Homo sapiens: one gene and its partners. The protein of the gene in region 3 interacts with the protein of the main gene of each other region in a pairwise test. Each region holds a gene or a part of one and is shown on either strand. Other genes may lie near its edges.

What was found. The genes of interacting proteins can lie anywhere in the genome.
Region 1: the proteins of ABI3 (region 3) and SUFU interact in binary tests that used the Homo sapiens proteins (3 or more experiments, as listed by UniProt).
Region 2: the proteins of ABI3 (region 3) and SH3BP1 interact in binary tests that used the Homo sapiens proteins (3 or more experiments, as listed by UniProt).

Annotation. Positions count from the first base shown.
Region 1 is NC_000010.11:102,590,950-102,597,972, reverse strand, and holds part of SUFU (suppressor of fused homolog), read right to left. Parts: intron 5,392-7,023; coding exon 5,249-5,391; intron 4,338-5,248; coding exon 4,252-4,337; intron 3,981-4,251; coding exon 3,908-3,980; intron 837-3,907; coding exon of another isoform or gene 834-836; coding exon 680-833; intron 1-679. UniProt on the Homo sapiens protein: Negative regulator in the hedgehog/smoothened signaling pathway. Down-regulates GLI1-mediated transactivation of target genes. Down-regulates GLI2-mediated transactivation of target genes. Part of a corepressor complex that acts on DNA-bound GLI1.
Region 2 is NC_000022.11:37,634,905-37,642,669, reverse strand, and holds the start of SH3BP1 (SH3 domain-binding protein 1), read right to left. Parts: upstream 3,002-7,765; 5' UTR 2,883-3,001; coding exon 2,824-2,882; intron 1,545-2,823; coding exon 1,502-1,544; intron 1,297-1,501; coding exon 1,192-1,296; intron 839-1,191; exon of another isoform or gene 132-838; coding exon 55-131; exon of another isoform or gene 1-54. UniProt on the Homo sapiens protein: GTPase activating protein (GAP) which specifically converts GTP-bound Rho-type GTPases including RAC1 and CDC42 in their inactive GDP-bound form.
Region 3 is NC_000017.11:49,206,138-49,213,706, reverse strand, and holds the start of ABI3 (ABI gene family member 3), read right to left. Parts: upstream 3,001-7,569; 5' UTR 2,983-3,000; coding exon 2,866-2,982; intron 1-2,865. Other genes in the region: GNGT2 (guanine nucleotide-binding protein G(I)/G(S)/G(O) subunit gamma-T2), read left to right, coding at 6,285-6,368, 6,825-6,950. UniProt on the Homo sapiens protein: May inhibit tumor metastasis. In vitro, reduces cell motility.

The sequences.
Region 1 (7,023 bases), on a different chromosome or scaffold from region 3:
ATGTAAGTGGCTGCTTCTCCTTTGCAGTTAGCTGGGGACGCCCTCTACTAAAAACCACAACTGTTTCTGTAGCCAAGATCAGCACAGGGAGATTCCAACAGGACAGCCACATCCTCCTTCCCAAAGACCCCATCCGGAACACGGTGGGTCCAGAGGCCCTGCCCACAGCCCCTAACCCTGTATCTATATGACAGGAGGTGGGCAATTTGCAAGCCAGCCTCACACTCAGGCCTCATTTGTTGAAGGCCTGGGAGGGCCCGAGGCCAGAGTGATCCTTGGATCTGGCATGGCCTTCAGGCCAGAGCTGGGCCCTGTGTCAATTCCGTGGGTGGCCGACACTTTTCTCTTGCACTTGGGTGGACTATGGACTTTTCCTGTAACTGTTCTGAGGCTTCCACTCACCTCCATGACCTCAGATTGCAAAGGGCATATCTAAAACACAACGGTGCCTGCTGGTGATGCATTTGAAATACACACAGGAAACACAACTAGGAATGGGCCAATAAAGCTCCCTTAATTCCGCCCTGCTGGAAGACTTCACTTGCTGTTTAAATCATGCCAGGAAATAAACTATTGAATGGGTTGTTTTTGTTAGAGACCCATCCTAGAGAGACTGGAAACCAGGCCCTGGGGAAAAGGAAGGAGGAAGGCTGGTGGAATGCTGAGTGATGGCTCCCACCTTTGCCAGAGAGTCGCCGGGGCTGTGTGCCGATGCAGATGCTCCGGCTGTCCTCGTCATCCTCGGGGGGCCGGCTCAGGTCATCCCAGGCACACTTGGCACTGACACCACTCAGGTTGGAGCCATCTGTCTCGATGCCTTTGTCAACTCTCTCCTGCTTGAAAAGAACCAAAGAGCCAGAGTTCTTTCAGAGAACTGGTGACCCAAGGTGACCACCCTTTCAGCCACTGCTCTTACAGTATTTACTGAGCCCTTGTGGTGCTGAGCATGGGACAAATGCTGGAGAGCAGGATCTCTGACCTTGTTCTGCCCTGGTTACCAATGCATGATGGTCTCTGCCAGCTCCTGGACTCCTCCAGGGGAACCAGGGATTAGGGGAAGCCAGGAGGAATGCAAATCCCAAGGGAAACATCTCTTCTACCATCAGCCTTCCAGCACAATGGCCTCTACCTGTTTCAGAGCCCCAAACCTGTCCCCGCCACGCTGGCTGGTGGGGCTGATGTGGCCATGAGAGAGCCTACTTCTCTGAGGAGAGGTGTGATCCTTCCTCTCCTCCCGATCTTCAGGCAGAACCTCCCAGTCACTGCTATAGAAAACAGGGTGGAAGCCTGCCACAGGCAACAGGCCACACCTGCAGTTTCCCCTTCTAACAGCTAGAGGGTGTGGTCACACAGGGAAGAGCCACTGGAGAACAAAGGCTGGACTTCCCTAGATGCATTGGTTCCCTTGTTTAGCAAAGGACTCTGGATGGAGATTCCTTCCCATTTCTTAGACTGAAATGGGGGCCTAGAGTGCAGTGACTATCTGCAGACACCCTTCTCTCCCCATCGAGACCCTGCCTTTGTGCAGGCCTTGGTACTGCTGAGTACAAACACTCTCCAAATGGCTTCAAGGAAGAGTTGTACTCAAAACATCCCTGGATTTTCTGGTAAAACACAGTTCATTGATGCTGGACCTTGAATTAAAAGTCATCTGGAAGGCTCTATGTCCATGTGGGCCAAATCAAGCTTGTGACTGAGCATCTCAACAATAATCTGTGCTTCCCGGCTCCACAGGTACCACACTGGCCTGCTGATCAGCCCAGAAGCCCCATGTGGGAGAAGTACAGGTACTGTCCTTATTTCCTGGGACCAGTCAGCAAGTGGCTCTGCCCCAGACGCCTCCTTCCCATCAGTCATCTCCTCCTTTCAAGTGCTAATGCTGGCCTGGGCAAAGCTGTGGGTTCCGAGCAGGAAGAGGCTAAGCAGGGAAGCGCTCTGTGTACTCTGGGCAGGGAGCATGTATACCCTGGTGTGCTCAGGGGATAGTCTGAGCTTTTTCCTCTGCACTGGCTGCCCTGGGGTCCCTCACTTAGGTAAAGAGTTGCAGACAGACAATTCTTGGCTCAACTTGTCTGGGCTATTTACTTTATAAGTAAAAAGAAAAAGTTAAGACCCAGAAGGCGAGGGACTTATTTGGGCACACAGCTGGTTAGTGTAGAGCTTGAATCACAGGAATATATGCCAGCTCTAAAGAGACTGATAGCAAGCAGGCCCCAGAAAGGCACAGTGAATACAGAGGAGTTCACACTTGGTGCACAGAGCCACCAGGAAAGAAAGCTGTCCTTTGTTCCTGTGGGACCCTGGCTTGCTTTCAAAGACCACTAGGTGCTCCGGGTCCTGTGGGCTGCTCTCAGGGGATCCTGCAGACTAGGAAGAACAGCCCTTGGCATGGAAGGACAGCTGTTTACCCTACTAGTGCAAAGGACCAGGTTCTTTCTTAGTACTTGGCACTTATGACAGGGGCCAAACAACGGCCCACAGTGCCCCATGCTGGATCCCAGTGTGGCTACAGAACAAGGGCTTAGGGAAAGATAGCCTTCCTGGTTCCTGGTTCTTGCATATGCAGAAGATACAAGGAAACCAAGTTTAAAGCAGAGAGAACAGAGGATCCTGGCAGCAGTTTGAAATGTTCAGTGTTAAAGGCACTAGGAAAACAGAGGAGCATCATCTGTGAATGAAGAGGATTTATGCCCAAGAACTCACAAGTCTACAGTGAAGAACTCAGGGGCTGCTGGCTACATGTCCATCTGCCACCTTTCTCTTGCTCTAACACATGGAACTCCCGGCAACTGCCTGTGGCCTACCAGATATTTTACAGAAGCATGGCAGGTTTAGAGATGGCAATGACCTGCATTTGGTCAGGGGAGTAGAAGGAGCCAGACACCAGGCAGGTAACATTATTAGCTGTCTGTGGCTCCTGCTTCAAGAGAAGCCCATAAGAAAGGCAGTTATGGGCCAGGCGCACTAGCTCAAACCTGTAATCCCAGCACTTTGGGAGGCCGAGGCGGGCGGATCATCTGAGGTCAAGAGTTCGAGACCAGCCTGGCCAACATGGTGAAACCCTGTCTCTACTAAAAATACAAAAAATTATCTGGGCGTGGTGGTGGGCGCCTGTAATCTCAGCTACTCGGGAGGCTGAGGCAGGAGAACTGCTTGACCCTGGGAGGCGGAGGCTGCAGTAAGCCGAGATTGTGCCACTGCACTCCAGGCTGGGTGAGAAGAGCGAAACTCCGTCTCAAAAAAAGAAAAGGCAGTTACGTTCTTGTGGCTTTCAAACTTTACCTGCATGACAAAGGAATGCTTCTAAAACAGCAAAGATGACACTGAAACAATGTCCAGGTGGGCCACAGGGAGTGGGCAGCTGCCAGCCTGTGTGTCTAAGGTGCCAATCTTTCCAGGCTAGGAGCTCTGCATCTGACTGTCCAAGATAGAAAATGTGGCGAAAATGGGGATAGGACCATTAGACCAATCAGCCCTCACTCCTGCAGCTGAGCCATGGAGTCAGTATCACCTACACTACTGTCTGGTACAGGGCGGTGGTGGCCGTGGTGGCTCCCTAAAAGAAAGTCTGGGAGGCAGGAGAATGAATACTGGGCAAGCAAGCAATATCCACTACACTTATCTTTTATTGCTGGCAATCTAATTTTTTAAGCCAATATATAATTTACATACAATAAAAATATCCTTTTAAAATGCCAAAATACATATGTCTGAGGACTAGCTTTCCTGGGCTGAAACCTCTGCTCCCTACGTGCTCTGCAGAATTCAGGGGACAAGTTCCAAGTGATGCCATATTTCTACTCACTCACACATAAAGGTCCTCTGTTTTCCCAGGATGAAAGCCAGTGTTATTTGGAAGAGGCCTAGGCACAGGGTGCTAGAAAGGTTTTCCTCACTCAAGACATACTTGCAGGTGTGGATCGATCTCAAATATGGTCTCTCCCCTCCGCATGTCAGTTATCAGCCAGGGGCCGCCAGCACTGTGGACAAGGAAAGGGGATACAATGGTAACTGAGGGTCTGGGGCTGATGGGCTGGGCCTACAGCCTGCCCTGTTTGCTGCCCCAGGCCTAGGACACAGGGGAATAGTTCGTGGTCAGGGACTGTCAGGGAGTGAGTCGTCAGGAAGCCCTGATGTGAAAAACCAGGGTCTGAAATAACAACGCAAGAGGGAGCCCCACATGGAGGGTAGTGGAGGGACTCCCACCCCCAGGCCCAGGGAGCCGCGCTCCCACCTTGCATGGGTACTCACATAGGCACTGTCCGCAGCAGCTCCAGGATGCCCTGCCCGTTCCACTGCTGGGCTGAGTGTAGCTCTTCAGTGCAGACACCAACGATCTGAGGCCCAGGATAGAAAGCCCATTGTGTGTTAATGGCCACCCCCCACCCCAAGAAGGTCAGCTACCCAGGCTCTCTGAGTCACCTCCAGTTGGGAGACCACAGGCAGGATCTGTGCTCAGGAGCTGGTGCAGCCAAGATTGGATGATTCCCTTAGGAGGGAGTGGCTGCCTGGCTGGGAAATGGCTGGGTCCACATGTGGGCCCTGAGGCCTGACCCTTGCCCTTGCTGTGTCTGGATGACACCAAGTCTAGCTCTTAGCTACAAAGGAGAAAACCAAGGCCTGAGCAACTCAAGATGTGTCCTCAGGCCATGTCTCTGGAAGTAGGGGAGGTTCAGGGAGCCATTCCTACCCAGTCTGGTATCATGGGGAATGTAAACAAGAGACTTTGAGACCTATCAGGCTTGGAACCACCACCAATAGGTCATAGCAGCCTGCAGAGAAACTCCTCCCTTCCTTATTAGGGGATAGGCCTTTGTGTAAATATCAAGGGAATCAGTGGAACCTTCACATAGACTTCGTGACCAAAAACAAGCACTGGTCAAAGCTGGGCAGGTTCCCACAGCTTCTGGCAAAGAGCAAGGACGACCCAGAGCTGGCTTCCCGCTGGAAAGTCCTGTTCCTGAGACTGGGTCTTCACTGTTCAAAGAATACCCGCCACCCCATTACTCCCTCTCAGCTACAGCCATTCTCTCCCAACCAAATGCCCCCTTCCCTTTCTCCCCTCTCCCATCTCAGCAGGTTAAATCAGACCATCTGAATCTACCTGACAAACCATCAGAGGAAACAGAAATCAGGACGAGGCCAAAGGAAACCTCCCACTCCCTTCACTCCCCCTCCTCAAGCCTCCTTGTCCTCCCAGGACCCTTCCCACAGGAAGGCTTGAGCCAGCGTCCAACCTGTGCCTCACCTGGAGGAAGGTAACTACCCCAAAGGGTGTCTGCACGGGCTGCATCTGTGGGTCCTCTGTCAGCAGCATGTGCTGAATTCTTGACTCACTGTTATCCAAAGGGCTGTGCCAGGACACATGGTCCCCACTGCAGAAGGTGTTCTCTGTGGGAGAGATACAAGGATCCTCATTGTTCAAGGCCCCAGATCCAGGCCTGGAATCTGGGCTGGGATCTCACTAGCCCAGGCTGGGAGGCTTCCCAGCCTCTTAGGGTAGCCCCTGTGAAGGAAGAGAAGCATTCACTCCGGATGGAAGCAAAGAGTTTGTGGATATTTCCAAAAACCTAAATTGTTCCTGCTTGCCAGTTCTGTCAGACTTGAAAAGGACAGGCTATTAGTGTGAAAGCTCCTTCGGCCTGGGAAACCAGAAAGACTTCTGGCATCTGCTTCGCTTCCCCAATATCCCGACTCATGGTGGGAGGCAGGAGCCATGACTGGATCTGCCAAGAAAGAATAAGGTGCTTTTCTGTAGGGCCACCTGGCCAGAAGTCCACAGAGAGGCAACAGGGCAATGAAAGCCCTTCACCTTGGAGAAACAGACCGAAATTCCTATGTTGCTGAAATGGCACTCAGAAGGAAACATCGAACCTTGGAGAGCCTTTGAAATCTATCACCATTTTCCCACAGGCAGATGTAGGAATTCCTGAGGAACACTAGGCTTCAAGTAAATGGAGGTCTAAATAGTGCCTCCCACACCGTGGCAGAGACAACTCATGAGGATCCTCAGGCCATGTCTCTGAGATGTTCAGATTCTGCCAAGGGTAGCTGTTGCCATGAGGGCATAGCCTCCTCACACACAGGCTCACCACTGCACTTCAAGCAGGTACGTTACTTTAGAGAGAGTTTTGTTTAAGGCCACATAACCACAAGGGAAAACAACCCCACAGGGTACTAAGTCTCTCACCAGCTCTGACTCTCATCGTGGGTGCCAAGGTGCTCTATATGTCCAGCCTATGCATCCACAGGCTCCCTTCCATGTTTTGTCCTTACACAAATGGAAGCACACTATTCTGCAGATTTCACTTAATTATATATCTTAGACAGCACCTTTTTTTTTTTAATATGGAACACTTCACGAATTTGCATGTCATCCTTGCGCAGGGGCCATACTAATCTTCTCTGTATCGTTCCAATTTTAGTATATGTGCTGCTGAAGTGAGCACGAGATCACCTTTTTTTTTTTTTTTTGAGATGGAGTCTCGCTCTGTTGCCAGGCTGCAGTGCAGTGGCGCGATCTCTGCTCACTGCAACCTCCGCCTCCTGGGTTCAAGCGATTCTCCTGCCTCAGCCTCCTGAGTAGCTGGGATTACTGGCATGTGCCACCACACCTGGCTAATTTTTTGTATTTTTAGTAGAGGTGGGATTTCACGGTGTTAGCCAGGATGGCCTCGATCTCCTGACCTCGTGATCCGCCCTCCTCGGCCTCCCAAAGTGCGGGGATTACAAGTATGAGCCACAGCACCCAGCAGAGATCACTGCTTCTCAGCATATGGAGAGCTATCTCATTCTTTAAATGGCTGTTCCAGAGTTCACTATGGTCTGTCATTCACGATCTCGGAATCTCAACAGTTGAGGTATCTTTCTTCACTTTTTATCAATATTTAAGGTAAGGCAGAACACACACATACACACACAGACACACCTTTTCCATCCAAGATACGGCTTCAGTTATTGGTCCTAACCTCAATAGTGTTCATTCAGGCAGGAGAAGGAAGACTGCTTCATCTGAGATGTGAT
Region 2 (7,765 bases), on a different chromosome or scaffold from region 3:
CTGAGATCACGTCTTGGTATCCCCAGGTGAGGGCTGGGCCCCGTCTGTGCTCACCCCATGCTGGAATCAGGGTCCAGCTCCTTGAAGCTCTCAGCCATCGTGGTGGACAGAGCCATGAGGGGAAGCTTCTTCTGCAGGGAGGGTGGGGCCGGCGATGAGTGTCCGTGCCTCCCTCCACCCTGCCTGAGCACCAGGCCAGCCCCTTGGGGCAGGGGAGGAGGGAACCCAGGAGGGCCACAGTCCCAGATGAGAGTGGAAACAAGATGACAAGGCGTGGTGGGGGTGACATTTCCCTGAGAGCATGGATGGAGCCCCTCTCCATCTGGCGTGCCCTTTCCTCTTCCCAGAAGCCACTTGACTGGGCAGGAAGGAATGACCAAGTCCTACTGCAGACTGGGAAACTAAGATGCAGGGAGGGCAGGGAGCTTGCCCCAGGTCACACAGGTGGAGGGAGAATGGGAGCGGGAGCTCTTTCCCCTGTCCCAGGGTATATATGGCTGACCTAGCCACCGCTGAGTTCAAACGCTCTATGGCTCCCAATTTCCTTGCCTTGGCCACACTGAATTGTCAACTGATTCCAAAACATGGCCCCACACTCCCACCCCATCTGGAGTTACGGGGAATGCCTGCTCTGGGATCAGAGACCAGGGTTCAAACCTCAGTTCTGCCACTTACTAGCTATGTGACCTTGGACAAGTGACTTTATCTCTGAGCCTCCAGTTCCTCATGTGTAAAGCAATGCCTGCCCCTAGGGTTGTGCCAGTGTTCCATGAGACAGTGCACTCATATGTTAGTAACAAGCTGGCGGTTATCAGCCAATAAACGCTGCCTCTTGATTAATAAACGTGTATCCCTCAAAAGCCAGCTCAATTGCTACCTCCTTCAGGAAACCCTCTGAGGCCGCCCCATTGACAGCCTGCTCTTGCGCACTGATTGGACAGAGAAGTTCAGGTGCTGTCAGAAGCCTGGCCTTGGCTTATGGGAACTGGTGCACAGGGAAGTGGGGTAAAGGTGATGGGGAAGGTATAGGGCCTCTTGAGTGCAGTGCCAGAGGGGCCTTGGAACAGAGCAGTCTCCATGCCCTTGGTGCCAGACACTCAGACTGGCAAGGAAACCCCAGCCCCGACCTTGCTTCCCCATTGGATGGAAGTCTCCTGCTCAGGCCCCTCCTTCCCGGGACCCCCCACTCACCACCCGCTTGTCCATGTCTGCCCCGCTCTGGCCCTGCAGACAGGCCTGCAGCCGCTTGTGGATGTTGTGGGCTGCCCGCTTGGCCGGCTCCAGCCGCTGTTCTACCTGGGAAGGAGGTATGGAGGTTAAGGATCAAGAGAGGCTGTCTCCCCCTGAGCAGGAAACTTTCTCCTGTCCCCTGGGGACCCCATGGCCAACAGCTTGAGGAATGACTCAACCCAGGCCCCTACCTGGCGTCCCCGCCCCGGCCCTCTGCTCCGAGACAGCCTGCACAGGCCTGCCTTCCCACCTGCCCGGCCCAGGCACGTACCTGCAGCAGGTCCTCACCCAGGAACTCAGCGGTCTCCGGGGTGCTGCGGGGAGTGGTGGGGGGGGGGGGGAGAGTGCTTCTGCTGAGCCTGCCTGGGTTAGAACGCCCCCTACTTCCCTTCCCCGCAGCAGGGCACCTGGACCCCAGTGCTTCCACTGTCCCTCCCAGCTGAGGCCTGCCCTGGGTGGCCCAGTTGCTTCATCCCAGTCGGAGCACATTCCATGGGGGTGGGAATAGGATACATGGGTTTTTCCTCCTCCACCCAGGGCTGTGTCCTGAGAGAGGGCGGACAGATGAAACTAAAGGGGAGGCTGAGAGACCCACCCGGGGCCCAGCTTTGGGACACAGAAGCCTCTTTTCTGCCCACTCCCAAATCCTCAGCCCACCCCGGGATGAGGAGTATTAGCTGGCCCCAAGAACGGGAAGTGCAGGAGCTCAGACTCCTAGGCACAGTCACACAGCACTCTGGACTACAGCTGTGGGCAGGGGTGCACAGGCCCTTGGCCCCCACCTGGGGACACATGGGGGATGCCAAGGCCCACTGCAAGGTGGTCTGACTGTCCAGGCTATGTAGGCATCTGTGCCAGTGTGAGACTAGAACCAGGTCTCTGGACACCCAGTCCCCTCCCTGGACCCAGAGAATGGGGAACTCCTGAGGCTGGGGGAAGAGGAGCAGAGAAGACAGGCTCTGAGAGGCTCCCCAAACTTCCGGCCTCCGTGCCACCGGCTCAGAGGCTGGGGGTGGGAGCTGGGAGACCTGGGGATATTTCCACCTGAGTCCAGGAAAAGCAGAAACGAGACAGAAGCAGGAGGCCCCTGGGCTGGGGGGAGGGGGAGGGGGAGGGACGCTGCAGGCCAGGGGCAGGCCCCTCCTCCCACCAGGCCAGGACCCATCTCCTCCCCTCGCCCCAGGTCTGTGGCCCTAATCGACCCTCCTCCCTCCCCGGCCCAGCAAGCAGAGGTGGTGAACTGTCCCATTGTCCAGAGGGGACAAGTGAGGTCAGGAGGACCATCCACTTAGAGACTCGTGGAGGCAGAGAAGTCCCAGCGTCCTAGGGCAGAGAGCATTCTCCCGCCTGAAGCCCCCTCCAATCCGGTAAGGGGGGGCATCCCTTCCCCCAAAGGCCACCCTTGCTCCTCCAGCTCTGCCCGAGAGACGGGGGCGGCGTTCAGAGAGGAGGAAGAGAGAGCAGGAGTCTGGCCGCTCAGAGGGTGGCTGCCCAGCTGTCCCCAGCCTCCCCCACCCCCGTCTCCCCCGACCCTTTTACGACCCCTCAAGTCCTGCCGGGGTAAGAGTGGGGCTGGAAGCGGGTGACACTCACCGTCCCAAGCTGCCCGTCTGGGCCAGCTGCCGCATGCGGTGCAGCTGCCTCTTCATCATCTTGGGGGCGAGCTGGGGGCTGCGGGGTCACGGCGGGGGTCGCGGGCCCGGGGAGCCCCCGGTCCAGCCTGCCTCTCCTGCGGCGCGGCTCTTGCCCCGGATGGGTGGGCGGCGCTCTCGCTTCCTGGGCCGCCGCGCGGCTCTTGCTGGCGGCCGGCTCTCTCCTCCCCCGCTCACGACTCCGCCCCCGGCCCCCAGGTCACTCCTCTCTCCAAGTTGGTTTCCTCGCTCTTCCCCGGCTTCCGGGCCCCCGGGCGACCCCCGGCCGGGCCCCCGCTGCTGTGTGTCCGCCGGCCGCGGCCGTCCACAGGTTGTGCCCGGCTCCTCCTCCCCGCAGCGCCCCGCCCAGCCCCGGTGGCGGGAAGCAGGTAAGCCCATTCCTGCCCCTGCGCCCGCAACCCGCCCCAGGCGGGGTGCCTGCCCCACCCGCAGCCTGCAGACCCGAAGTATAAATAACCTTTGCATCCCTCGCAAAGAGGAAAGGGTACCAAGCGAAAGAGGGGTAGGCCTTTCTGACCTGTCCTGGCCTCTCTGGGCCTGCCGCGGATACTGCCTTGCACTCTCTTCCGCAGAGGACCTCTGGCCCCCTGGAACTAAACCCCCCACCACTGGATGACTGGCTGGGAGCTTTGGCTTCCTGGGGCCACGGGCTGCTGTGTGGCCGTGGACAAGCCCCTGGAACTCCGGACTCGCTGTTTCTAATGGTCTGATGGGCCAGCTGTCCTGGGCCTGCCCATTCTGCAGAGTGGACAAGACACCCCTGCCAGCTCCCTTTAAGGGAGGTGCGTGCCACCCCTCAGCCACCAGGAACCCTCCCAGAGCGGTTCGCGACACCCTGTTCTCCACATCTCCTGGCAGTTTGCTCCATCTGTGAAGCCCGTCTCCTCTCATTCCTCCTGGCAAACAGCCTCAGTCCCCCTTCCTTCTTGTAGGGCAATGATGTAGGTGCTGCTCTGACTGCCCCCAAACTCAGTAGTTCTCCTCTTTGGCCCTCCACTCAACACAGAGTTAGGCATACAGTAAGTGCTCCATAACTGCTGGTTTTACAAGATGTGAGCGCCTTTAGGAAACAGTAGGCTCTCCTTACCCTGCACCCCTGTGGCATCAGGAGCCGCAGGCGTGGGGAAGAGGGGAGGGTGTGCCCCAGAGTCCTGCCACACCCTCTGCACTTTGCTTTGTTAGTTTCAGTTTAGTTTGAGACTATTTGAGCCACTACTGTGTGCCGGTGCAGACTGTGTGCCGGTGCAGACTGGGCGCCTCTCAGAGGCAGGACCTTGGCCCCACACATCTCCATACTCCCAGCACCTAGCCCAGGGCCTGGCACACTCACTGGCTGCTTCTCTCCTCCCTAATGAGGCAGGACTCATTGGGGGTGGGAGGAGCTGAGAAGGGAACCCAACAGCTGCCTGCTATGGCCAGAGCCTCCCAGATGGGAGCCCACCTGAGTGTGGAATCCTGGTGGGAAGTTGGGAGGCTCCAAGATCAAAGCTCAGGCCAGGATGAGATGTCAGGCAAGGTTCCCTCCCCCATCTCCCTTTTCCCAACAGGAAGGCTGCTGGCCAGTGACTATGGGTGGCATGGCAAGGGAACCTCAGGTGCCATCCTTCCTGTCCCTCGGGAAGTCTCTGGACTATGTGGTGCCCCTGCTCTGTTCCAGCCAAGCCTCCAGCCCAGACCACACCGGGCCTGGGCTTGTCTGGTTCTGTAGCTGGTCTGAAAGTCCTTGAAGGCAAGGTTTGGCTTACACCTCTGTCTCTCCTAGATTTGCCCAGTCCTGAGCCCCAGCTCCGGCCTGGTGAGGGGTCAGTACACGTGGGTTGTAGCCGCAGCTGTGGTGGAAACTACCTGAGCCATATTATCAGTCTAACTGAGCTCTTGCCCCGCGCTCCTGCCCTGGTCTCCAGACTCCCCTCCAGCCAGACCTAAGGGTCCTGGGCAGGAGAGACACCCTGGGCCTTTGAGTCGGATTCGGGTGGGGCTGCTGTGCCTCCTAGCTGGGTGATGGGTAGATTTTAGGCCCTCCCTTGTCACACCTGGATGTTGAATCATAGAAGGATGGACTCCCCAAAGGTTGGGTTAGGGTTATAGGCTGTTCCTTAGAAGGAATTGTAATCAGAGACTTACGGACTCAGAAGTTTTGATCAGTGGGTGTTGGGATCATGGCCTTTCTAAACTGCAGACACAGAAGGGGTACCTCAGAGCTCCCCAGCCAACCCCTCGTGGGGCCCTTCCCCAATCCAGGGGCCTGTTGGCTTGGGTCATTCTCTACCAGGCTGGTCTTAGCTGGCTCCTGCTAAAGCCTCTGGGACCCGGCAGTGTGCCTGTCACAGTGGCTCAGGCAGCAGGAACAGAGAGAGCTTAAGGGTGTGGAGGAGGCTAGCTGGCCAGGCTGTGGCTGTCATTAGCTGGGTAACCTTAAGTGGGACACTTCACGTCTCTGAACCTCAGCATCCTCCTCAGTAAATTGGAAATAATAGTACCTACCTCACAGAAGCGTTAGGTGAATTAATAGATGCAAGATGCTTATAAAGTGCCTTGCGTTGTTTCTTGTTACCATCATTATTCAGCTTGCCAAGTCAGGAATGGAAAGACCCCTTACCCCCATTCCTGCCCCAACGACCCCTGTGTGTGTCTAGCTGCCTTAGGACAATGGGACTTTTTGTTGTGCTATAGCATATCCTCCAGTGAGGGTGGTATCACTGTCCCCATTTTACAGGTGAATAGCCCAAGGCCCCTGGCCTAAGGTCCCCAGCTGGAAAAGTGGTAGAGGCCAAGTTAGGAAACAGATCTGACAGTCTCCTAAGCCCACGTGGGCTCTCCTGCTGTGCCAGACCCAGACAGCCTTGCCTGGGAGCTCCAGAAATGCTGGCCCTTGGCTCTGCCTTAACCCCTGTGGTTGCTTTGAGGGCCTGGCAGCCTCTGTGCAGATTTGTCTGTGAAAGCCTGGGACAGTCTGGGTAGCATGTGCTAGTAAGGCTTGAGCAGGATGTGGGCAGGGAGGTCAGCAGCTGAGTGGTGGTGGTAACGGGGGTCGGAAGCAGGGGCTGCAGGAGCAGAAACATCCCATTTTAGACACTTTGACAAATTGCCTGTTTGTAGTATCCCTCGGTGCTGCCCTCTGTGTGGACTTCCACCCAGAGCAGCTAGGGGCATAGTGAGATCTCTGGGGCTCTAAAAACTCCCTCACCTCCCTCCCCAAGCCCAAAGGACTTTCCAGGAAATCCTGGGGTGGCCCTAAGGCTGAGAACTCCATTTTAATCCTGATAGCCCTGGAGGAGTGTGTACCCTGAGCCCAGCCCCAGAGGACAGCCCGACAGAGGCTGGGGGGAGGACTTGGGAGGTATGGGGCAATGTGCCATCCTGGTAGACACCTCAAGACTGCTGGCCCAGACTCAGCCCATAATGTGTGACTTCTCTGAGCCTCACTTCCCATTTCACAGGGCATTTCAGAGGCTTAAGATGGGAGGCTATAGGCATCAGGTCCGGGGGCTCCTCTTGCCTGCCTTGCTGGGCTGGTGCCCTGGTTGCAAGGCCCAGAGAGACTGGGGGAGGGGGTATGTCGAGAGACCAGGCAGACCAGGCACAGTAGCTCACCACAACACTTTGGGAGGCTGAGGCAGGTGGATCGCTTGAGCTCAGGAGTTCCAGACCAGCCTGGGCAACCTGGCGAAACTCTATACAAAAAATAAAAATATTAGCCGGGCATGGTGGCACGCGCCTGTGGTCCCAGCTGCTCAGGAGGCTAAGAGGGTAGGATTGCCTGCGCCGAGGAGGTCAGGGCTGCAGGGAGCTGTGTTTACAACACTGCCCTCCAGCCTGGGTGAGAGACCTTACCTCAAACAAACAAACAAAAAAACCAAAAAACTGACTGGGGGCCGGGTGTGGTGGCTCACGCCTGTAATCTCAGCACTTTGGGAGGCCAAGGCAGGTGGATCACCTTAGGTGGGAGTTAGCCTGACCAACATGGAGAAACCCCGTCTCTACTAAAAATACAAACTTAGCAGGATGTGGTGGCGCAGGCCTGTAATCCCAGCTACTCGGGAGGCCGAGGCAGGAGAATCGCTTGAACTCGGGAGGCAGAGGTTGCGGTGAGCCGAGATCGTGCCATTGCACTCCAGCCTGGGCAACAAGAGCGAAACTCCGTAAAAACAACAACAACAAAAAACCGACTAGGCAGGAGCAGGCTCCCAGGCCCTTGCCACTTCTCCTGGCTGCCATAAACAGACGAACAGTGTGATGCGGTTGCTGAAAACCAAAATTAACTGGTGCCTCGGCCAAATCAACAGAAATGGAAGTGGGGCTTCGAGATCTGGGAAGTCCCACTGGTCTTGGCATGGCACTGGGGGTCACCCTTCAAGAGACAGAGCACACGCCTCCCCAGTGCACTGCATCCCAGCCCCTGAGACTGCAGAGCGCAGTGGCCCGGACCTCTGTGCAGCAACACGGTATTTGGGGAAGGACTCCTCCAGGGAGTGGAGGCCCAGGGTCCTTTCCTCTGGTTAGAACCCACCCCAGACTCTCAGACAGATGCAGGGCTTCTGTGGTACCTTATGTCTTTGCTCTCAGGGTGCCACACTGGCTCCCAAGTCCTTGCCAGCTTGTGAACTCTTAGGACAGGGGCTGGCCCAGGGGCTGCTCAGGAAACACTGGCATGACTGACAGGATGGGTGGGTTAAGGACAAGGCAAGGGACAAGGTCCAAAGGCTGAAGGGACCCCACCTTCCCGTCCCCGGAATATCCTGGGTCACTCCAAAGCTGACAGCCTGGCTCCTTTGTCCAAGGACTCCTCAGAGGGACCTTATAGCTCATTGAGTCCCTCTCCCCTTTTCCAGAAAGGAAAGCATCTTCCTCAAAATCACACAGCAAGCCAGTGACCCAGCCAG
Region 3 (7,569 bases):
GCAGCCTGAACACCTACCGACCCCTGGCTTTGCTCTTAGCCCAAAGTTAGGTCCGCAGGGACAGGTGTCTGAGATCCATCTCTGCGGCTGAGTGCTTGTTCATCATGCAAATTACCGTGTCTGTAAACTCAGTCAACCCTGGCTGAGAACTCTGCAGGTGACCCTGGTCTGCCTTCCCTAATTCCCCATGGGTTTCCTAGCATCTGGGTGGTGTGGGGAGAGAGGGGCTGCAGGTGGGGTTGGAGGGTAGGGGAATCAGGCCTTAGGTAACAGAAGTTCTGAGATCCAGAACCTTCCTAGGCATTTGCCTAGATAAAGATCCTCAGAAAGGCCAGGAAAGGTAACAAGTTGTGTGTTCTAGTAGTTAGTACTCTGCACGAAGGAAGCAGGAGTCCAAGGATTCCAACTTGGGTCAGGGCTTCTCATGCCCTGCATATTTTTGCAAGGACAGCTTCTCCTCCCTAGAACTGATTCTTATTATCCATCCTTCCAATGAATGGTAGTGATGGTCATTGTAAGAGCTGCCATTTATCCTGCTCTTCTGAAGGGGCTGGCACTAGGCTGAATGCTTTGATACATTTTTATATTGAATCCATGGAGCCACCACTGAAGGCAGGCATGAGAATCAGAGGAGAAACTTGCCACAGTTCCTGTAGTTGGTAGGTGGCAGAACTGGAAATTTGACTTAGGTCTTTGCGACCCCAAATTGTGTGTGCACACTGTGTGTGCAAATGAGAGCCCTGTGGAAGCTCTTTGAGGTGTGCAGAAGTTATGGAAGGAATGGAAAGGACTGCTTGGATCCTTGTCCATAGAGGAAACATGCCTTTCCATGCTAGGAGAATGAGCTGGTTTGCAAGCCTCATTCTGTCTCATCTGCAGGTGGTCACTCAACATCTACACAGACCGAAATGATACCCAGAGTAGCATTTTCAGTTAGTGGCATAGGGAGTGGGCTCTGGAATCAGATTTCTGCGTTTGAATTCAGGCTCTGACACTAGCTAGGAGACTTCTGGGAAAGTGACTTAACCTTTCCAAACCTCAGCTTCCTCACTGTGAAGTGGGCATGGGACTCGCCTCACCGGACTTCAGATGAGGATGAAGGGAGGCCATGCTGGTAACATGCCTGGCCCAAAAGAAGGGTCCAGAGCATTTTAACTGCTGTCATTACTGACTGTCTTTAATCTGCCATTTCCCATGAGCACTTGTTACTCATTTACTTCTTTTTTCAACATTCTTACTATGCTACAAGGTCCCTGTGCCTGTTCTCATAGTTTGGTTAGTACAGGTTAGAAAAATAAAGTTTTGCCCAAGGGGTAACAAGGTTAGTCTGCAGCTCTTCAGGGAGCAGAGGAAACCGGGGACAGAGAGTGCTAATAAACTGTCGTAAAGTCACATAGCGTGTAGGGAGGCAGAAAGATGGAGAGGAAAGAGCTTGGCATCAGGATTCAGGGAAGCCCAAATGTGGTGGCTTATGCCTGTAATCCCAGCACTTTGGGAGGCCAAGGTGGGCAGATCACTTGAGGCCAGGAGTTCAAGACCAGCCTGGGCTACATATGGAGACCCTGTCTTTACAAAAAAATTTAAAAAATTAGCCAGGCATGGTGGCATGCACCTGTAGCCCCAGCTACTCAGAAGGCTGAGGTGGGAGGATTGCTTGAACCTAGGAGTTCAAGGCTTCAGTGAAGCTACGTGAGCTATGATCATGCCACAGCACTCCAGCCTGGGTGACAGAGGAGACCCCGTCAAAAAAAAAAAAAGGCTGGCTGGGCACAGTGGCTCACTCCTGTAATCCCAGAACTTTGGGAGGCCAAGGCGGGTGGATCACCTGAGGTGTCAGGAGTTCGAGACCAGCCTTACCAACATGGCGAAACCCTGTCTCTACTAAAAATATAAAATTAGTCGGGCATGGTGGTGCATGCCTGTAATTCCAGCTACTCAGGAGGCTGAGGCAGGAGAATTTCTTGAACCCGGAAGGCGGAGGTTGTAGTGAGCCAAGATCGAGCCATTGCACTCCAGCCTGGACAACAAGAGCGAAAAAAAAGGAATGCCTGGCTCTGCTGTTTGGAGCTGTGTGGCCTTAGACAAGTCACCTCACCTCCCTGAGCTACTGTTTCCACATCTGTAAAATAGGAATTATAATACATGTCTCACAAGGTAGTTGTACAGATTAATGAAATAACAGAAGTGATTTCCATCATGGCTCAGTTGCCTTGCCTCTCCTCCCTGAATCCAGGAATCTATGTTCTCAGCCCCAGGACAACCACACAATTTAAAACCTGTTCTACAATGCCACCTCCCTATCTGTTGCTAGAAGCCTGCTCCCAGCAGTTATGTGGGCCATCCCCCTGCCTCTGCATGAGATCCCCTCTCTTTAGCCCAGCCTACTCTGCCTTATCCCCACTCTCCCTTTCCCAAACTCAGGGAAAGAGCCCCTTTCCCTTGTCCATCTCAGGTTCACTGTGCTGTTTGGGAAGTTCTTCTGAAGCCTCACCCAGAGCCGGCCTGGAAATAGAATGATCGCCAGCATCTGTGTGAGGACGGAGGCTTTGGGTCTCTGGATTGACCCGTGGGAACTCAGAAGGATGAACCTGAGGTGACACCTGAGAACAGGATGGAATCGCACTGTCTGTCCCAGGCATCTCTGAGGCTCTGAGAGACAGAAGGGGCACAGTGGGGGCTTGGGTAGTATGGGGTCAGGGTTAAGTATTGGGGTCTGGGATGAAGCCGAAGCCTGGAATGGGAGGATTTCTCAGCCAAGGCCCAGGACAAGCACTGTCAGGATGGGTCCCAGGGCCCCACTTGGGGCAGGGCTCAGGGTCCCCCCTCCGGGGGCTGGGGTGTCAGGCTTCCGCCCGCTCTACCTACCTGCACATAGTTGTCCTCGCAGTAGTCAGCGACCCGCAGCAGGGCACTGTGGTTGCCCCTCAGAGCCTCCCGGCCAGTGGGGATCTCAAACTCCTGCAGCTGCTGTAGCTCCGCCATCACCCCCAGCCTCTGTCTGGCTCCCCAGGGAGCCCGCTCGTTTTGAGTCTCACCCTGCCCTTGATTGGTTGCTCTGCCTTCCCTCCCTCTTATTGCTTTTGGTTTCCTCTGCGTGAGACCCAAACCTGCTTGCAAAGGGCAGGCATGCTCATTCCGGGACAAGAGGAAGTCAGTCCTGCTCCCCGAGCCTGTGTCTCTCTGTCCCCTGCCCAGAGGAAGGGGGAAGCCAGGGGCCCATTTGGGGGCCCAGCCCCCAATCCCACCCAGCAGAGGAAGCCAAGGTCGGGGCAGCTGTGATTGCTCCCTGGTCCTGGAGAGGAAACTGGTCGGCTGGGGGATGGGGTCGGAGACTGGGGAGGAAGGGGGCTGGCCTGCTATAGGGGGCGGAGGTGGATTTTCCACTCATGGAAGGCGGGAGGAAAGGGCAGAGGGTGGGGGCTTCCTTGGGAAGCTCAGGGATGAGTCACCAAGGGACAGGGGAGTGGAGGGTGGATAGGATATGGAGATCCGTCATACCAGAGGACTGTGGGGCAGCAGCACAGCAAAAATAGAAAACAGCCGATGCGGCAGCAAGAGGGGTCAGGGTTGGACACCGGGAAGACATGACCAGAGAGGTTGCCAGAGGGGTGTTAGCAAGCCTGCGAAGGGTTGTGTGTGATGAAGATCTGCCCTACACGCTCTGTGCAGATGAAGGCAGGACAAGATGAAATTGACCAAGCGTAATGTGAGGGACTCAGATTAGACAACAGGAAGGACTTGGATTTGAGAAGCACCAGGTTCAAATTTCAGATCAACTTGCGGTTTTAGGAAGCAGCGGTGGACAGAGCACTGAGCCTGCCTAGGAGGTATGGGCTGTGGTTCACGCATTAACAGGACAGTTGTACCAGACAACCTCCAGGATCCTGTTCTGATTTCAAATTCTTAGAGCTCCCAGCTGAGAGTTGGACTGGGTCCTGGAGCACGGAAGTTAGGATGGACGGCGGGCCTCCTCTCTGCCCCTCCCACCACCAAGCCTGTCATCCTAGAGACAGGAGAATAAGAGGACCTCCCATTGACCATATTGGTCCCTTAACTTTTGCTCCTCCAGCGGGTCCCTTGTCATTGGATGGGTGTCAACCAGAGCAGGAGCTCAATGTCTGTTAAATGGCATAGCCCTTGGGTGGTCCTGGGGGGACAGCAAGAAAAAAACCAGGATGTGGGTTCTGTGCTCAGGAACCCACATTCAGGGCTCAGAGGGAGGCATGGCAGCAAAGAAGCTTGAACAGAGGCATTAGAGGTGGCCACGCCCCAAGTACTAAGTGGCACAGCTTGGTGAGCAAGGACATTTTTATTGAATGAGTGGATGAAGAGTGAGCTAGGAGAACTTCGTAAGGTGAAACTGTGGGGATCCAATGGGCAACACAAAGCATCTTGGTTAAGGAGGTTAGGGGCCGGTCTAGGACTTGCCTCAGGAGGAAGGACAGCCTCAGAGCATGCTCAGAGGTGGGAAGGGAAGGAGGAGAAAGCAGGCGAAGCGGGGTAAGTGGGGCTGCAGGGTGGAGGTGGAGAAATAGAAGCGCTGCGGGCTCTAAGCTAGTGAGGTCACCAAAAGTGTGAGGCTAACGCAAGGCAAGGTGGTGAAAAGGTGGCTTCTGTTTTCGCGTTTGTTTTTGTGGGGAGAATGTCTGTCTCTCTGCTCTGCTGTAGTGAGGGCTTGAAGGCTCAAGCGGGTGATGGGCTTAGAACTTTGAGCCTATGATCAGCTTAGGCATCAGAGATTTTGGTTTCCAGGCCATCTGCTTTATCTGAAGATTTTCAGCTGATGAAGAACTAGGAGGCTCAAACACTATCTTACCTGAGTCCAGGACAAGTGACTTGGAGAGTGTGCTCTTCTGTGGCAGGTGAGAGGGGCTGAGGTTGCACTGGGCTGGGATCTACTCTTAGTATCACTGGGGCTAGGCACCAGGAAGGCCTTCCTGATAACCCTGCAGTGATAATAATAACAATAGCATTATTAGTGATAATAATAAGTGTATTAAGTGTTCATTATGTGCCAGGTAGTATATTATAATATTTTATAGACATTATTTTCTTAGTACCCACAATAATTGCATGTGGTAGGTTTTTTTAATACCCATTTGCAGCTGGGGAAACTAATACTCAAAGAGGTTGAGTGACTTCCCTAAGGCCACACTGAGAAAGCAGTAAGGAAGCAGCAGATCAGAGTTGGAGTCTGGTAAGCTCCAGACCCCCTTGTCTCTCTCTCTCTCTTTTTTTTTTTTTTGAGATGGAGTCTCACTCTTGTCGCCTAAGCTGGAGTGCAGTGGTGTGATCTCGGCTCACTGCAACCTCCGTCTTCTGGGTTCAAGTGATTCTCCTGCCTCAGCCCGCTGAGTAGCTGGGATTACAGGTGCCCGCCACCACGCCTGCCTAATTTTTGTATTTTTAGTAGAGATGGGGTTTCACCATGTTGGCGAGGCTAGTCTCGAACCCTCAACCTCAGGTGATCTGCCTGTCTCAGCCTCCCAAAGTGCTGGGATTACAGGCATGAGCCACAGTGCCTGGGATCTTTTTTTATTTTTTGAAACAGTTGTTCTCTGTTACCCAGGCTGGAGTGCAGTGGCATGATCTCAGCTCACTGCAACCTTCGCCTCCCAGGTTCAAGCAATTCTCATATCTCAGCCTCCCGAGTAGCTGGGATTATAGGCACTCACCATCACCCCGGCTAATTTTTCTATCTTTTGTAGAGACGAGGTTTCGCCATGTTGGCCAGGCTGATCTTGAACTCCTGGGCTCAAGCGATCCTCCCACTTTGGCCTCCCAAAGTGCTGGGATTATAGGGGTGAGCCACCGCGCCCAGCCAAGACCCCCTTCTCTTGACCATTATTGTATACTCTCCCTTGCTGGACCTGGAGAGAAAGAGGAAAACTCTGAGTCACTATATGAAACAATAACGTTGCTTCCCAGATCTTCCTCTCTGAAAGAAACTCCTTTTTCTTTCTTCTCTGTTTCCTCTGTAGACAGACAGACAGATGCCTCTATAGACAGACAATCCAAATTTCCTCCATAGACAGACAATCCAAAGGCAAAAATGGTGCCTCCCCCATCAGACTGGGAGCTTCCTCCCCTCCTGAGCCCAGACTCTTGAAGAAGCAGGGCATGCAAGGATGGAGTGAATATCTGTTGAATGATGAGGGGCCTGAACTGAGGGATATGGCAGGGAAGATGCTAGAAGTCGAGGTGTGGAGGGAGCTGGAAGAGCTGATGAGATTTATGATCCTGGCTGCTGAATCCTTTCCAGGATCAGGTCTGTCTAGGGCAGGATGGCCCAGGATCTCAGCGAGAAGGACCTGTTGAAGATGGAGGTGGAGCAGCTGAAGAAAGAAGTGAAAAACACAAGAATTCCGGTGAGCCTCCTCGCCCCGTCCCTGCTCTTCCCTTCCTGTTCCTGATGAGCCCCGGGAAGGAGGAAGTGACCAGAAAGGGTGGTGGGACTGTTCCAGGGCTGCAGAAGCAGCAGGAGGTACCTCTGGGATGGGGTAGGATGCAGAGAAAGGCTGGGGTTGACCCTGTGAAGGTGCCAGCCTCCCTGAGCACAGGAGAGAGCTTCAGGGCCTTGGAGAGCTCAGCGTGTCCAGCCCTGTGTCTGGGCTGGCTCTGGCCAAGCAGCCCATGAAGGTCAGGGTCAGTGTTGTGGGTCAGATCAAGGAACTCACACCCCCGAACACCTGTCTGTCCTCTGTGTCTTTCTCCTCTTTGGCCCCTGTCTCTGCCCTGCCCAGAAGCCTGTTTTTCTGGCACTGACCAAATCATGGACCCAGAGACAGTAACAAGGACCTAAAACATTTTTTGTGTTCTCGCAGATTTCCAAAGCGGGAAAGGAAATCAAGGAGTACGTGGAGGCCCAAGCAGGAAACGATCCTTTTCTCAAAGGCATCCCTGAGGACAAGAATCCCTTCAAGGAGAAAGGTGGCTGTCTGATAAGCTGATGGCATGGAGCCCTGCCCTGAGTGTCTGTCCCTCTTCAGCCAAGCCCAAGTCTCCTAGACCCCCAGGGAGCCAGTGAACTGTCACCTTCTCTTCATCACAGAATGAGTAAAGATCCCTGAACAAATGCATTGTGAACCCATTCCCCACTCCCACCTTCAACTCTTTTCTCCCATTATTTCCTCCACCTGCTGGGTCTCTGCTGACCTTGCTGGGAACACTCTGAGGACAGTGTGGCTGGCCGAGCGGTTGGCCCCATGGGTGGTGGGGTGTGAGAAGCCTGCAATACCCCAAGACCCCAGAGGGCAGTCCTTAGGAAGCACTTACACCACCTGGGAACCCCTCCGTCTTTTCCCTCTACTCTCATCCTAGGAATAAAGCATTTCCACGCCAGAGTAGTTTGGGCTGGGGGCCAGGGTTGGGTGGTCCTGTCCCTCCATATCATGTCCTACCCTATGGTCCTGTTCCTAGTCATTTAGATCACCCCAGATGGCCTGATGACAACAAGAGTTTGTGAAGTTATGATTTCATGATTTCTTTAATATTGTCAAGTAGTCTGTTAGTGCTGGGCACTATGGATGGAAGAGTGTGCAAGACGAACATGGCTCCTATTTTCATGGA